Linked DNA regions of Homo sapiens: region 1 is linked to region 2. The links come from fine-mapping of genetic effects on gene expression. Tissue or cell type: lung. Region 2 holds a variant in brackets; the other region holds the start of a gene. All regions are shown on one strand. Distances are between the middles of the regions.

The links. PIP is the estimated chance that this variant, and not a neighbour inherited with it, causes the effect.
Region 1: it holds the start of ANGPT4, and the variant in region 2 is fine-mapped to the expression of ANGPT4 in lung (TOPMed, PIP 0.91).

The regions. Positions count from the first base shown.
Region 1 is chr20:913,617-918,986 of GRCh38, reverse strand. ANGPT4 (angiopoietin 4) reads left to right here and starts at 2,653. Exons shown (of 9, transcript NM_015985.4): 1 at 2,653-3,081. The coding sequence starts at 2,773. It overlaps LOC105372492 (a long non-coding RNA gene), which reads right to left. Exons shown (of 3, transcript XR_937185.3): 1 at 5,307-5,370; 2 at 1,566-1,661.
Region 2 is chr20:890,063-895,432 of GRCh38, reverse strand. It overlaps ANGPT4 (angiopoietin 4), which reads left to right. Exons shown (of 9, transcript NM_015985.4): 2 at 5,065-5,220. Among named protein-coding and RNA genes, the nearest start is that of ANGPT4, 24 kb to the left of the region's middle. The variant C/T (reference allele first, on the strand shown) is at 2,922.

The sequences.
Region 1 (5,370 bases), 24 kb before region 2:
TAGCCCATTCAGGTTGCTATAACAAAATGCACTAAGCTGGGGGGCTTATAAACAACAGAAACTTATTTCTCACAGTTCTGGAGGCTGGGAATTCCAAGATCAAGGCACCAGCCGATCTGGTGTCTGGTGAGAGCTCCCTGCTTCATAGACGGTGCTTTCTTACTGCAACGTCACCTAGCAAAAGGGAAGGCCAGCTGTCTAGGACATGTTTGATAGGAGCGTTAATCTCATTCCCAAGGCAGAGTCCTCACGAGCTATTCACTCCCAAAGGCCCCACCTTCTAATACCATCACCTTGTTGACTAAGTTTCAATAGATCAATTTGGGGGCACACAAACATTCATATCATAGCAGGGAGTAATGATGACAGCTGTCACTGGTTGAGCATGTATTATGTGAAAGGCTCTGTGTTAACCTCACTGCAGGAATCGGTCTTTTAGCCACTGTAACATCACTATTTTGACAGAAGAGGAAACTGAGAGACAGGTTAGGCAACTTGGCAAAAGGCACACAAATAGGGGGTCAGGAAAGCCAAGATTCCGATCCAGATGTGCTGGCTCCAGCATTCTGAGTAGTGAAGAGGTGACAGAGGGGGAAATATCTAAAGGATCATGTTGGAAGAACAGGTCTGATTGGATGGTAAGGTCAGGAGCAGAGTGAGGGATGAGGGAAGCCTCATGTTTCCCAGGCAGGGCCTGCTACCTAATTTGTGGAACTCAATGAAGAATGCAAGTGCTGAGTACTTTGTTCCAAATGTATTAAGAATTTCAAGACAGTGCTGGCAGAGTGTAAACCAAGCATGGGGCCCATCTAAGCTTGGGGCCTGGTGTAACTGCCTCGTTGGGATTATCAAGCAGCTCAGTCAAGACAATCATAATGACGACCACCATTCACACTGCCCTTCTCTGCACCCAGAGCTGTGATAAGCTATCAGTCCACATTACTCTCACATGGTCAGGGTGCTATGACCCCATTTACAGCTGAGGCAACTGGGGCCAAGCGGGGCACGCAGAGCTCAGAGCATGTGGGAAGGCTCAGGGGAGGCTGGAGGCTGATAACCAGCTGCTTTTCCTTTGCCTGCAAAAGCCCCACACCTGGTATAATGTTCTCAGTCCCCAGATGAGACCACAGTTCACAGCTGCCCAGAAGCAGCCTGCCCCAATTCAAAACTCTATCGGGATTTGAGAGAACAAAAAGGAAAATACTAAACAGCCAGACTGGCCCCTACTCTGAGGAAACAAGCAGGGAGAGAGGAAAAGCCCAAACAGCTGGCAGAACATAAAGGCAGCCCATGCAGGAAAGGCCCCACCAACTCCTGGGCACCTTCTGCCTGGAGACCATGTCCCCCAGGGACAAATCCCTGCCCTAGAGGAGTTTATGCTCCAGTGGGTCGTGGGAGGGGAGGTGCAATGACAACTATAACATTGACAACGGAAAATATTTATTTAGTGCTCGCTCTGTGCCAACCTTGCTCTAACTCACCTAATTTTCATGCCATGTGAAGTAGGTGGTATTATTTTCCTCATTCAGGAGGAAATGAAGGCACAGAGAGGTTAAGTGACTTACTCAAAGTCATACAGCTGGTAGATGGTAGAGCCAGGATTTGAACCCAGAAGCTGAAAACTTCTCCATCCCCATGCTGAGGACTCACACGCATTCCTCCTGCAAGAGATAAGGTTTACCCAGTTTACAGATCAGGGTGTGGAGGCCCAGAGAGGCACAGCTGCCCACCCTAGGTCTCGTGGCCAGCTGTCGGGGAGCGAGATCTAGGGTTAGCCTCCTGGCACTCCAACCTCCTCTCCCCACTGCCTCCTCTCCACATCCCCACTCCAGCAGCCCCAGGACAATCTGCCCCAGGACATGACAACTTCTCATTACTGTTACAAGCAACCAAGCCAGGGCCATCCTGGGGCATACCACTTTCCCCTGGCCCTGAGGGAGAAGAGAGGACAGGAAGCAACTCCCAGCTGGGTTGCTCACTTGCCCCACCTTGGAAGGATTTTCTGTGTCTCCAGAGGCAAAGTGGATTCGCTGGGCCCTCCCCAGCCTCACCCCTCTGCCTCCTCCCCTCCCTCTGCTCTCTCCGGGGGTCACTTGTACTCCAAGCGCTAACATGGAACCAGAGGGAGGAAGGTGCAGCGGGGAGAGAAGGGGATGGCAGCGGGACTGAAACTTGAGATCTTAGACTTGGGGGGCAGGGGATGGGGGTGGAGGGAAAGAGGGAGACCAAGACAGAGACAGGAAGGGAGAGTTAAGTTGCATTTGGTTTTCCAAAGCGGGCAGCATTGGAGCTTGGCGTTTGTGTGTACATGAATGTGTGTGCGTGTCAGCGTGCGTGTGAGTGTGTGCTCGTGAGTGTGTGCATGAGTGTGTGCGCGTGTCTGTGTGCTGTTTTCTTCCCTCCCCTCCAGCAGGGAAGCCAGGCCTCACTGGATAATCAGAGGGCTCAGAGGTGAGGCAGACAGAGCAAGGTTGGTGCACGCTTAGGGTAAGGGCGACGTGCCACCAAGACTGAGGAAGGAGGAAGGGAAGGAGTGAAGAATAGAGGTGAGAGGGTGTCGGGTGGGGCCGGAGGGAGGCGGTGAGAGGAAGCAAGCAGAGCAGCCGTGGTATTCAGAGCAAGTATAAATAGCTGCCTGGACAGAGCTCGGCCAGACAGAGGTTTGTAGCTGCAGCTGCAGGCAAGCCTGGCCACTGTTGGCTGCAGCAGGACATCCCAGGCACAGCCCCTAGGGCTCTGAGCAGACATCCCTCGCCATTGACACATCTTCAGATGCTCTCCCAGCTAGCCATGCTGCAGGGCAGCCTCCTCCTTGTGGTTGCCACCATGTCTGTGGCTCAACAGACAAGGCAGGAGGCGGATAGGGGCTGCGAGACACTTGTAGTCCAGCACGGCCACTGTAGCTACACCTTCTTGCTGCCCAAGTCTGAGCCCTGCCCTCCGGGGCCTGAGGTCTCCAGGGACTCCAACACCCTCCAGAGAGAATCACTGGCCAACCCACTGCACCTGGGGAAGTTGCCCACCCAGCAGGTGAAACAGCTGGAGCAGGCACTGCAGAACAACACGCAGTGGCTGAAGAAGGTACGGGGCATGGGAGGTTTGCAGGGGGCAGAGGGCGGCTTTGGGGTCTGTCACAATCAGCAGGTGGAGTGTCCATCCAAGAGGCCTTCCCTGAGCACAGAGGGCTGTCTCTGAGCTGCACAAAGAGGGGCAGGGGTGGGTCTGAGGCCACACAGCAAGATTGGGCAATGTCAGCTGGCAACCTGGCTCTTTAACTGCCGTCCCTTCATTCATCCAACAGAAATCCATTCAGCCCTGACCAAGGGCTGAACGGACCAAGCCTTCCTGGGTGCTGGGGATACGACAGTATAGTATGTCTCCCTCTGGACTAGTAGGGGAAAGAGGCAGTAAGAGATAATCTACTATGTCAGATGGTGAAGCAAAATGAAGAAGAAAGAGGGCAAGTGGCGGCCCTGGGTGGCTGCTTGAGGTCAGATCATTAGAGAGTACTTCTCAGAGGAGGTGACATTTGAACCCAGAGAACAAGGGAAATGATAGAGTGGGCCAGGCAGGTATTTGAGGGAACGTTCTGCAAAGGGAGCTGCATGTATTTTGACCGTGAGGAGGGAATGCATCCGCAGCGGTGTGTGCCTGGAGAACCATGGGGCGAAGGCCTGTGTAGCTGGAGCAGAGGAGAGGGAGCAAGGGTGCGGGGAGGTCTGAGAGGTGACAGCAGGGCAGGCCATGCAGCTGGGGGGGGGGCCACTGGAAGGACTTCAGCTTTTGTTCTGAGTGTCATGGGAGCCACTGCAAGGTTGTGAGCAGAGACAGACACCCGTGATTCGATTTCAACAGCATAGACTGTAGGAGGCAGGGTGGAAGGAAGAAGCCCAAAGAGGTGGCCGCTGCAGCCATCAGGTGCAAGGTACCGGAGGCCTGGAGCAGAACGGGGCTAGGAGGGGGTGTGGCCAGTAAGATTCTGGTGGGTTCTGGAGGTAGAGCCCATCAGCTCTGCTGGTGAATTGGATGCGGAGTGGGAGGAAGCAAGGAGCTGAGGATGCCACTGTGGTTTTGGCCCAAGACCAGGGCTGCTGTAGAATGCCCTGTCATGCTTTCGTCTTTCAGCAGTGTGAGCACCTATTGTGTACCCTCGGAGAAGCACTGACTACAGAGGTGTGCAAAGCAGGCTTGGCCCTGGCGGGGCATGAGGGTACAGGAGACATCCTGGGGGGTCTGAGATGGGACTCTTCAGAGTCCCTAAGTGAGAGCTACCAAGGAAAGGGAGAGGGACCCAGGAGACAGTCTGGGCGATGACTGAGGAATGAAGGATGCGAACTAATTCCTGGAGTTTTAGAAGGTATTAAACAGCAGACAAGCTTGACAACCACCTCTGGCTCCAGGCAGGATAGCTGTCCTGGCTGCCCCCCTGGCTCCCTGCTAACACTCGGCCCCCACCTCCTGTTCTCCATGCAGCAGACCAAAGAATCCCCATCAAAACCTAAGTTACATCCTCTCCCTCCTCCCAGGGCTAACCATGCATCCGAATAAAAGCAAGAACCCTTACTCCCTGGAGTTCCCTCTCCCAGACTCCCACTTTGCTTACCCCAGCCTCCTATCCTCTCCAGCGCCATCTCCCCAGAGGCCCTCCTTGTCCTCCCCGTACGAAATAACCACCTTCCTCTTCCACCCTTTGTCCCTCTGCTGGCTTTGTTGTGTTTTTTTTTCTTAGAACTTATCCCTACCTAATGTTCTTAAAAACATTTCTTTTGGTGTGTGAGCTCCCAGAGGGCAGGCGCCATGTCTCTTTTGCTCACTTCTGGGTTCCCAGGGCCTAGAATAGTGCCGAACACACAGTAGGTACTCAATAAATGTCTGTAGCATGAGTGAATGCATGAATGCATAAATGTCCTTCCAATCTCTCAGGTCCCAGGTCTCCATCCTGCTCCGTGATGACACAAAATTGGCATTGATGGGATCCTGAGCCCAAAACCCATGACCTGGATCTCCCCCAACACCTCCCTGAGGGTCCATGGGTGTCTCAACTCCAAAGCTGCCTGAGACGACTCCCTGCTCTTCTCCAAACACCCTCCTCCTGCCTGTCTGTCTCTGTTTAGGGTGACACCACCACCCAGCCACAGGCTGTGCCCTGGGGGCTTCCTGTGGCTCCCACCTATCCCCCAGGCAGCTGGCCCAGCCCATCCTGTGGCCTAGGCTTCTCTCATGGTCCATCTTTCTGGCTTAGGCCTCGTCATCTTTCCCAGGATGCTGTCATCACCTCCCACTGGGCCTCCTACCCCAAGTCTCACCTCTCACTCTCATCCATCTTTGAATCCCCTGGGTGTCGGATGCTTGGGAAACATTGGCTGAGAG
Region 2 (5,370 bases):
GTAGTCTCCAAGGGCCCACAATGAAAGTGTGGCAGAGCCAGAACTCAAACCCAGGGCCAAGGGGATGGGGCAGTAGACCAGGGACCAAAACTCAGTCTCTTTGCCAGCTGGAAGGGTGACAAAAGGTCAGGCCTTTGTACCCCATCATAGGCCTGAGAATTCGGCAGCCTGAGAGTGATGGAGAAGGGGCAGGTCTAATCCTGGAGTCGGTGCACGGCATAGAGAGAAGTAGATCCAAAAAAACAAGAGAAGTAGATCCCACGCTGGGTGAGTTCCTCCACTGGGATCCATTCCCTGCCCTTCCAGCTGGTGCCTCAGCCATGGGCCAGACCTAGCTCCCACCACCCAGGCCAATATTAGTCTCCAGAGCCCAGCCCAGCCTAACTGAGCCCATCTGGCCCAGATTATCCATCCCAGGGCCTGTGCTGGTGGGCGGGTGTGGCAAACTGGGTGATGGGATCCAGCTGTGGGTAACCTTTGCCCTGCCCAGCCACTTGCAACCACAGGACAAGTGGGGGACCAGTGAGGTGCTTGGGGAGCTCCAGTCACTTGAGGGGACCCTGAGCTGCCCTGAATCACCAGCTCAGCTCTGCAGCCCTCAGGCAAGGAGTCTTAGAGCCTAGCCTGCCAGATGGTGACCTTGGGCAAGACTTCTGGGCCTCAGTTTGTCTATGTTCAGGCAAATGAGAAGCTTGGGGAAGATGCCTGGGAAAGTCTCACCTCAGGCATGAATATGCTGTTTGACTACTTGGAGCAGGTGCTCAGTACCTGGATGTCTGCTTTTTAATTTAGGTTCTAGGAGGTCAATGATGCATGAAAAAGTCTGAGACCAAACTCGATACAGCTATATTTGTCCTCATCCATGCTGGTGGGCCCAGCCAGCCACACATTAGAATCTCCTGGGAGCTCACATGCAGTCCATGACTAAGATTTACCACGGACCCCCGGACCAGCCTGCTAGCCCATGCTCTGATGTTAATGACATCGAAGGCACCCCTCCCGAGGAAATCTCAACTGCACCACCCCTACTACTCCCTAATTCAGCAGGAAGCAGTTAGTGCGGTCATCAGCTGACCTCCCCAACAGCACTTGGGTTTTCCTGTTGAGAGGGGGACTGAGAGACAGGGCTAGCTGGATTTCCTAGGCCAACTTAGAATCCCTAAGCCTAGCTGGGAAGGTGACCGCATCCACCTTTAAACACGGGGCTTGCAACTTAGCTCACACCCAACCAATCAGAGAGCTCACTAAAATGCTAATTAGGCAAAAATGGGAGGTAAAGAAATAGCCAATCATCTATTGCCTGAGAGCACAGTGGGAGAGACAAGGATTGGCATATAAACCCAGGCATTCGAGCCAGCAACAGCAACCCCCTTTGGGTCCCCTCCCTTTGTATGGGAGCTCTGTTTTCACTCTATTTCATGCTATTAAATCTTGCAACTGCAAAAAAAAAAAAGAATCTCCTGGGAGCTGACAGAGGGGTTAAAGACAGGAAGGCACAAAAGGCAGACCCATGGAGAGGAGGGCAGCCTGGCCCAGAATAAGGCGAGTAAACAGATTTGAAATCCAAATTGGGATCACAGTGGGCAGTACTTACTAGTGGGTTGAGTGTGGCCGCTAAGAAAAAGAGAAGTTAAGATTGAGGTCTGGGTTTGGGGCTTCAGAACTGGGTGGAGCCATTTCCTGAGATGGGAAAGATTTCGAAGCATGGGGTGGGAGTTACAGGGACAGGGGCGATGGGAGCTGAGGAATGAAGAGTTTCACACTGGGCTTGAGATGCTCATTGGAAACCATGCAGAGATGGCGAGTTGGGGACATGCAGGGGAGAAGTCTGGGTGGGAGATGGTGATGGCTCCATTAGCACAGAGGGATGTGGAAGTCCAAAGACCGATCTCAGCCCCTGGGGCAGGGCCCTGATGCATTTGGATCCTCAGACCTCTTGGCATCTGGTCCTGGTGAAGCTTAATAATCCTTTCTCAGAAATGCATAAAATCAAAGCATAAGAACACTCAGTAATATGGAAATCATAAGCAAAATATGAAAAATAAAATCTGTGATCAGGCATAGCATTATCCAGTGGTGGGTGTGATGTCTATAATTCCAAAGTCCCGGTGAGTAAAAACAATGTTTTAAGATACCGTAAGAGTGTGTTGTGATATGAAAATATTTGGGATTTCTATTGGTAATGACTCTCAGGACCTGCTAGTATGGCTGTGGTTTGTGACCTAGGCTCATAATTGAAGGAAATGCCAAATTTTAATTGCAGATTAGTGGACAAAAAATGTGATCTTTTTTTCTCACTCAAGTTCATGGAGCCTGTGGCTTCTTCATTAAGGACCCCTGACCTAGAGAGTGAATGTACATAGAGACAAGGACCCAGGACTGGGCCATGGGGGCCCTGCCGTGTAGGAGTCTGTAAAGGAGGAGTCAGAGAGTGGGTGGTTAGGGGCTAGGAGGAAACCAGGATTGGGGGGAAGTCGTCCAGCAACAGGGAGTGGCCATCCAGGTGATTGCTCCTGAGATGTCAAGCAAGATGGAGTGTCCCTTGAGGGCAGTGTCAAGGAGGGCTATCTATGACAAGGTGAATTAAAGAGCGAAGGGGGGAACTGCGCGTGGTGGTGCTCGCCTGTCGTCCCAGCTATTTGGGAGGTGGGAGGATTGTTTGAAGCCAGTAGTTTCAGGCTGCAGTGAGCCGTGATCACATCACTGCACTCCAGCCTGGGCAACAGTGAGACGCCAAAAGGCAAAGGGACCTCCCAGGATGGAGAGACATGACTGGAGGTATACAGGAGGATGAGCACTATGGGCTATATTTATTCTCTATACTTTTTTTTTTTTTTTGAGACACGGTCTCACTCTGTTACCCAGGCTGGAGTGCAGTGGTGCATCTCAGCTCACCGCAACCTCCACCTCCCAGGCTCCAG[C/T]GATCCTCCTGCCTCAGTCTCCTGGGTAGCTAAGACCACAGGCTTATGCCACCATGGCTGGCTAATTTTTGTATTTTTAGTAGAGATGGAGTTTCACCATGTTGCCCAGGCTGGTCTCAAACTCCTGGGCTCAAATGATCCACTCTCCTTAGCCTTCCAAAGTACTGGGATTATAGGTGTGAGCCACCGCACCTGGCCTCTATGCTTTTTTGTATGTGTGAAACGTAACATCATTTTATTATTAACGTTATGTTGTTGTTGTTGTTTTTTAAGTGAGGGTGGGTATGAAGGTGAGAAAATGGAGACAACTTGTAGAAGTTTTGTGTTGATGAGATCAGAGAAACTGGAGAAGCAGCCAGAGAGGCTGTGGAGTTAGTTTTTAGATGGAAGCTGTTAGCGCATGTTTGTGTGCTGCAGGGAGGGGGTGGGCTGATGATGCAGGGAAAGAAGGAGGGGGGTCTCTCTGGTCTTCAGTCCCTGCTGCTACTCTGCATCAAGGGCTCTCACACTTGAGCAGGCATCTGACTCAGCCAGGGGTGTTGTTAACCACAGTTGGCTGGGCACCATTAAGAGTTTCTGGTTCAGGAGGTCTGCGGTGGGACCTGGAAATTCACATTTTTAATGAGCTCAGCTGATGCTGACGGAAGAACCACACTTGGAGAAACACAGCTCTAACCAGTACTACTACCGCCCACAAGCACCCGCTCCAGGATGTGATAATGGAACTTGCTCCCTTTGAAACACTCCAGGGTGAGGAAGGGATGGGAGTGAACAGTCAAGATGGAAGAAGGGAGAAGAGATGAAGGAGGAAGTGGCTGGAGCCTGGCCCGAGCCAAGGTCACCACCTCTCCTGGGGAGCACCCATCTTCCCAAGGACCCTGAGAGCTGTCCAGCTGGCTTCTGAAAGACTGAGTGAGAGGGCAAGGGAAGGAGCCAGGGACAGGGGTGGGGGGCATGGTGAGAGGCCAGCATGTGTGCCGAATGGAGAGGCAATGGTGGAGGGGAGCTGGCTCTCTGCCTGCAGGCACCGAGCCCTGAGAACACACTGTTCACCTTTACAACAGCATACTGGTGTCATGCCAGACCAGCTCTCCTGCCCTTGGGAAAGAGAGCAGCCCTGTCAAAGAAATGAACATTTGCATGTGGGATCCCAGAACATCAGAGCTGGGAGAACCCTTGGAGACTGGCCAGTCCAGCCCCATTTGGCAGATAGAGGGGATCTGAAGATAGAAAACACAGCTTGGCCAATGGACCTGCAAACTCTTTGTACAAGGGAGAGATGCATTCCCACTCCCTGCTGGCTGACTCACCCTGAGGAAGCTGGTGAAGGGGCATGTGATTGGGCGCTGTGCTCTGACCCTTGCTGTTTCCCCTTTTTCATCAATTCATTGAACGCGCATTTATGAGCACTCACTGTGCACCATGCATTGTGCTAAACATAGAAACAAGGCAGTGAGCAAAACCAAGTCCCTGGCTTCATGGAATTGACATTCTAGAGAGAGAAACAGACAACAGACAGATAAAAAGAGAGATAGTGATTTTAAAAAGTCAGGTGGTGATAAGTGGTATGAAGAAAGCTGAAACAGCATGAGGAGGTGTGCCACGCAGATGCGGATCAGGGTTGGGGGAGGATTCCAGAGGGAACAGTGAGGGAACAGCTGTGGGCACATGCTTGCTTCGTTAGAGGGATGTCATGGAGCCATTGCATCGGGATTGAAGTGAGTGAGGGAGAGGGGAATAGGAGAGGAATGAGAGTGTGGTGGCAGGCCCAGTCACGGAGGAACCTGCAGTCATGGCTTTTCCTCTGCGTGAGATAGGAACCCTGGAAAGATTTTGAGCAAAGGAGGAGTGTGACTTGACTTAGGTTTAGCAGGATCCCTCTGGCTGCCTAGTGGGGGATGGACTGTGCAGGGGACAAAGATGGAAGCAGAGAGGCAGACAAAACAGGCATATAAATCCCTCCCAGGGAAAAATCTACTGGGATAGTCCAGGCAAGACGTAATGGTGGCCTGACCTGGCCCGGCATGTTCTGAGCCAGGGAGGCCTCAAGTGGCTGCTCAGTGCCCTCCCATGGTGACACGTGGGAGGGACAGGGGGCTTCCCCCGCCCCTCCCCCGTGACCCCAGCCCATGGTCTCCCACAGCTAGAGAGGGCCATCAAGACGATCTTGAGGTCGAAGCTGGAGCAGGTCCAGCAGCAAATGGCCCAGAATCAGACGGCCCCCATGCTAGAGCTGGGCACCAGCCTCCTGAACCAGACCACTGCCCAGATCCGCAAGCTGACCGACATGGAGGCTCAGGTAACAGAGGGTGACTGAGTGGGCACTGAGGGCCTGTGGCTGGCCAGGCTGGTTCGTAGCCCCAGTCATCTTACCTTGATCTCTGACCCTGAGTAGGGTCAAGGCCTCCTCTGGGCCTGTAGCCCCCCGGGTCCCTCCTCCCTGATGAAC